2 separate regions of the Homo sapiens genome follow, and region 2 is linked to region 1. The links come from fine-mapping of genetic effects on gene expression. Tissue or cell type: whole blood. Region 1 holds a variant in brackets; the other region holds the start of a gene. All regions are shown on one strand. Distances are between the middles of the regions.

What was found. PIP is the estimated chance that this variant, and not a neighbour inherited with it, causes the effect.
Region 2: CBX7 starts here. The variant in region 1 is fine-mapped to the expression of CBX7 in whole blood (INTERVAL, PIP above 0.99).

The regions. Positions count from the first base shown.
Region 1 is chr22:39,130,559-39,133,312 of GRCh38, forward strand. CBX7 (chromobox 7) reads right to left here. Exons shown (of 6, transcript NM_175709.5): 6 at 214-2,754. Among named protein-coding and RNA genes, the nearest start is that of CBX7, 21 kb to the right of the region's middle. RefSeq lists an enhancer at 868-1,429. The variant A/C (reference allele first, on the strand shown) is at 1,321.
Region 2 is chr22:39,151,345-39,153,971 of GRCh38, forward strand. It overlaps CBX7 (chromobox 7), which reads right to left and starts at 1,336. Exons shown (of 6, transcript NM_175709.5): 1 at 1,032-1,336. The coding sequence starts at 1,100. RefSeq lists an enhancer at 914-1,495 and silencers at 953-1,002, 1,073-1,642.

The sequences.
Region 1 (2,754 bases):
CTGCTGACAATAGCTAACCACCTTTCACTGTAACTTTCCACTGCTTACCCCAGTCCTATAAAACTGCCCCACCCCTATCTCCCTTGGCTGACTCTTTTTGGACTCAGCCCACTTGCACCCAAGTGAAATAAACAGCCTTGTTGCTCGCACAAAGTCTGTTGGTGGACGGATGCACTTGACAACCACCAGAAGGAATAATCAAATGCCCAGGAATTTTCTTTTTTTTAAATCATCTTTAATGTATTTTTAATAATTTTTTTGCCTCATTTACCAGATAAATCATCTAAATAAATAGATGCTATACAGTCTCTTACCAATGTCAGTACAAAAATAAAACCGCGCTCTACATCCACTCTGACTCTCCCAGCACACACACACTCAGCAAAGGCATGTGCTTGGAATCAACTCGTGCCCCCGACCCCTCCCAGATACATTCATTTAGTCTGAACAAAGCTCGAAGCTCATTCTGTGCAAAGGAAGCGCTCTTGTGCTGAGACCTGGTGGCCGCAGCTGGCCACTTCGAAAGCAAAAGCTAAACCACCTCACAGAAGCACAGCGCCTGCCCCCAGAACAAGGGGACAGGAGGAGCTTGGCAACGAGGTCATCACCCGAACAGCAGTGACAGTCCTGCATTCCAGGCGGCTGTGCCAGGGGTGGGGGTACCTCCTCCGCACCCCCCACCACAAAAGGAAAAGTGCCCACGGGTCTCTACATTCAAAGCGGGTGGGGGCTGGGGGAAAGAAAGGCAGATGGGCAAATGCTTTCTAAACCCTCCCCCCACCCCCAAGAGTACTGGCCTTTTAAGAGGGCTGCGGGGGTGGAGGTCACTGTCTGCCTTGCTCTACTGGGCCACTCTGGGCTGGAAGGAGGCCTGCACGGCCACAGCCGTAGGTGACCTCATAGAGGTCACCTGTCCTGGAGGATGGTCCTAACGGCCCACAGCCTTTTCCCCCAGGGAGCTGGCTCACTACAGCCCATGAGCCACCTGGCTGCCCTGAGCTGGGCACCTCAGGCCCACCCGTCCCAGGTCACACCCCTGGAGTTCAGCTCTCCCTGAGCCACGGAGTTCCCCATGGGCCATAAAGGGCTGAGTAAGAGGAAAGATGTGTCCTGCTGCTGCAGACAAAAGCAACTGCAGCACCCACACAGAAAGCCCCGTGAATCCACAGACCCACAGATTGCGCAAATAGTTCTTTGAAAGTGACCAGGAAGCAGGAAAAAGGTCCTATGTCCCCTGGGGGATGGGGAGCGTGACTTCTGCTGGAAGCTGCCAGCCATGTTCCAAAGTCATGGGCCAAAACATTCAACTAGAGACCCCCC[A/C]CAACCCTCTATCATCTTTACCTCCGCTGGGCACCCCTCTCCTGGAAGAGTCCCCTCTGAACCCCAAGCTTCCCCTTCCCCTCCACAGGGCTCCACAGCTGGAGATGGGTGGTGATTCCTGCCGCTCCTTGTCCAGACCCACCCCACGTATTCCTCTAGATTCCATTCCCTGGGCTGGAGGTGAATCAGGTCATCCCGGAGGGGACTGTCCCCCAATGGAAGCACTGAATTGACCGTGGACAACTAAAGATCGAGGAGGAAGGAAAGAGAGACTCAGGGATCTGGGAAGCCTGTCAACAGAGCACCCCATGCAGAAAGGGCTGCAGGCTGTCTTTGGTTTGGGAACCAGGGAAGAAGGGATTTGGGGAAAGAATCACCCTCTCCTTGCCTCAGTAGACTCTGTGACTTCCTGAGGACACAGAGCAGAGCTGCGAGGAGGGCGGGCAGGTCTCAAACTTGCTGGCCGCACTCCACTCTTGGTGTGTGTTACCCTGACTCTGACAGCCAAGGAAAGACAGGGGAGCCGGCCTTTTCCATGCTCCCCTTGGGCCCCCCAATCTGGTTTTGTCTCCCCTACAGGACTGGAAGAGAGGGAGAAGTCACTCCTCACTGGCAGGGAAGCCACGGGCCCCCAGGACACCTTGTACAAACCAGAAAACAAGTGCACCTTGCCAGGGGTGGGCTGGGGCAAAGCCTGCCCATCACACAGCACAGCCTGACCTCAGAGAGGCACGGCAGAGGTCCCTCCACAGGAATACAGCTCAGCCCCAGCTGTGGCATTTAGGTTGGATGGGGAGGGGATGCAGAATGGAAGGAGGAAGGGGCTTAGGAGTCAAGGGCTGCCCTGAGAACGTGGTGGGACACTCCCTCCCTCCCTGACTGCCCACACCTGGGTTGGCTGAGTTGGAGGGGAGGGCAGAAAAAGAGGGGAATTGGAAGGGCTGAAAAGTCACCTGAGTCAGAAAGAACAAGAACCCCTCACGGGAGGAAGGACAGGGTCCAGACGTCTCAAAGCCTGTGCTGATACATCACACAACTTAGCAGACGCCTGCACACCCGCAGCCTGGCCCGGTGCAGCCGAGAAACCACATCTGTATGCCTGGAGCATGGGGTGCCATCGCACCTGTGCCAGACCCCTGCCCTCCACTGAAAGCCGCAAGCAGGTAGCAAGGTGCATGCAAGGTGGGGTGAGTGCAGGTGTGGTGGTGAGGTCTTTTGTGCTGTGAATCACCCCACGTTCGCCTGGCCAGGGTTTCTAACCCAGGTTCGCAAGGCCCATGTGGACACGTCTGCAGCCACACATGCTTTCACGGGGCACATGGGAACGTACACGCGAAGGGTAATGCGTGCACACCTGTGCAGCCAGGTGTGCATGAGCGTTTCTGCACAGGCCAGGTGATGAGGGGAGGGCAGAGCTCTCAGCAGAAGGGTCTC
Region 2 (2,627 bases), 21 kb after region 1:
GAGATGCCAGGACTGAGTTTTCTCTATGGAGAAAGAAGATGGGCTGCCAATCAGCCCAGTTGAGCTCCTGCTCTACCTCCCTATCTAACTTGCTCGGTGACCTTGAGCAGGTCACTTCCTCTGCCTGGGCCTCAGTTTTTGTCTCTGTTAAATGGGAGGAGGTGACCCCCTAAGGCCCCTCCCAGTCGGCCTGGAGCCTCCCAAAGGGCTGCAGGGAGGAGGAGACAAAGGAAGGACAGTAGTGCGTACCAGGAAAGGAACTTCTCCCCAAGGATTTCCCCAGCCTTAGGCGAGCCCCCTCGCCAAACAAGTGCACGGGAGGTGTAGACGCCAGGCCCGGACAAAGTCTAGCCCCAAAGTGTGGGGTTCTGAAACCAGCAGAACAGACACCTCCTTAAATTGCAGGGTGTATGTTTTGAAGAAGGCAGATGGGGTAGGAGACTAGGGGATGCCCCAGCGCAGGGGGCGGGCTTCAGAGCCCTGGCCTGGGCTAGGAGTTGAGGTGGGGGTGGGGGCGGGGAATAGGGATGTGCTCGGGTGGCGTAGAGGGGGCAGGATCGGAAAAGGCCAAAGTCCAGCAGGAAAAACTTCAGAGGCCGGAGGAGACTTTTCCAAAGCTCCACTTACAACTTGAAAGGATTTGGTGCCAAGCGTCCAGAGTCCCGAGTTCAAAACCCAGCTCTGACCATAACGCGCTAGGCAAGTCCTTTCAACTTGGGCCTCAGTCTCCCCATATTTACAATAAAAGGGGAGCGAGGTGGGATGGCGCTGAGGATCCCTACGTCCGATCCTAATCTCCAGCTCAGGCAGGCTCGGCCGCCACTAGCATCCTGGAGCGACAACTTTTGTTCTACTCGCCCTACACGGTGGCAGGGAAACTGAGGCACGGGCTGGGGAGACGGGCCCAGCAGCGCAGGGCTGCCGGGGCCCCCGCGCCCCGCTTTCCCCTTCAGCCCCAGCGTGGAGGGAGCGGTGCTGGGGACGGGAGGGACCCCACTGGGGTCCTGGGAGCCGCCCCCGGGCAGCCTCACCTTCCGCACGCGCTTCTTCCGGATGCTCTCCACGGCGAACACCTGCTCGCCGATGGCTGACAGCTCCATGCGGGGCGGCGGGCGAGCGGGCCCGGGGCCGGGCCGGGCCGGGGGCGGAGCTGCGGGGCCGCGGCTGCGGCGCGCGATGCTGGGGCTGGCGGGGTCCCCGTCACCCTCGTCCGGGCGCGCACGCGCACGCGCACGCGCGCACACCCCCTCGCGCTCCCTCACGCCGCCGACGTTCCATTTTTGAACCTGCGCAACGTTTTCCTCGGCGCCAGCGAGCGAGCGCGCGCAAGGAGGGGGCGGGGCGGGAGCGCGCGGAACGGCCGCGGGCTCGGCTCGCGCCCTGAGGGTCAGCTCCGCCCCCGAGCCCCGCCCCCATCGGAACCCCGCCCCCGGGGCCCGCCCCCGCGGGTTGCGATTGGGCCGCGGGCCGCGAGCCGCGAGCGCTGCCGTGGGACTTATTTGGCTCGGTCACCGGCTGGGGCGGGGCGGAGGCTCGCGCGCCCCGTCTTGCTGTGACGCCGGGGCGGGACGTGATCCTTAATACCCAGGCGGGCGCCTCATAGCCTCCCGGTGACTGCCAGGGGCCGAAGTGGCAGGGCCCAGTGGAGCCGACGACAAAGTCAAGGCTCAGAGCGGGGAGGCCATTTGCTCACCTCCCGCAGCGGAGGAGACTGGGCCCGAGGCGCAGCCCCTCGAGTTGCAGGAGAGCCGGGACCCAAAAGGCTTCCCACCGTGTCCGGACGTCGCAGGGCCGAGGTCTCCCTAATCCGGCCTTCTCCGCGGCGCAGTTTGGCCAGTGTCTCCACGTCCGTCCACCCACCCCTCCATCCGCCCTTCCATTTGTCCATCCACCCGACCCTCGGTGGTCGGTGCCCAGACGCACGGGTCAGACGCGGGCGCTGCCTCGAGGGCTCCCGGGCCGGGCCCTCGTTCGCGGCAGGAGCGGCCGCGGTGGAGCTGAGGTCCCCCGGGGACGGATTTTGCCGCCGCGCTGCCCCAGCCTTCCCCAAACCCGCGTGTACTGGGCGCTAGGTGCTTAGTGGGGGCTCAACCATTTGTGGCACGAGACGAACTCTTGATTCCCCACCCCCCTTCCTTTTTCGCTAACGCGCCTCCATTCCTCACTGGGAGCCCGGCGTCGTCCCTGCTCCTTCCTGTACTGACCCCAACTTCTGTCGCTCCGGCATCCCCTCGGGGACTCGGGTCTGCCTGCCCTCACCGCACCCACCTCCCAGGTTCGCCCCGTCTTTTCTCTGGACCACAGCAGAGACCTCGCGGAGCTGCCCTCCCTCCGATCTCAGCCACACAGTGCCAGAGTGTGCTTCTAAAATGCAGATCTGACGGGGTCACCCTGTGCTTAAAAATTTTCCTCCCTATTTCCCTCACAATAAAATCCAACACCTCTTTCTGGCACATAGAAAAAGAGAATAATAGATTCACACCTGACTTTTCATCAAGAGCAACAAAGCCAGAGAGAAAATAACCATCATCTTAGAATTATATATTCAGTGAAAATGTATTTCAAGAATTATGTACCCAGTATGAGGCACATGTATCCAGAACGTAGGTGAAATCATAGCACTTACA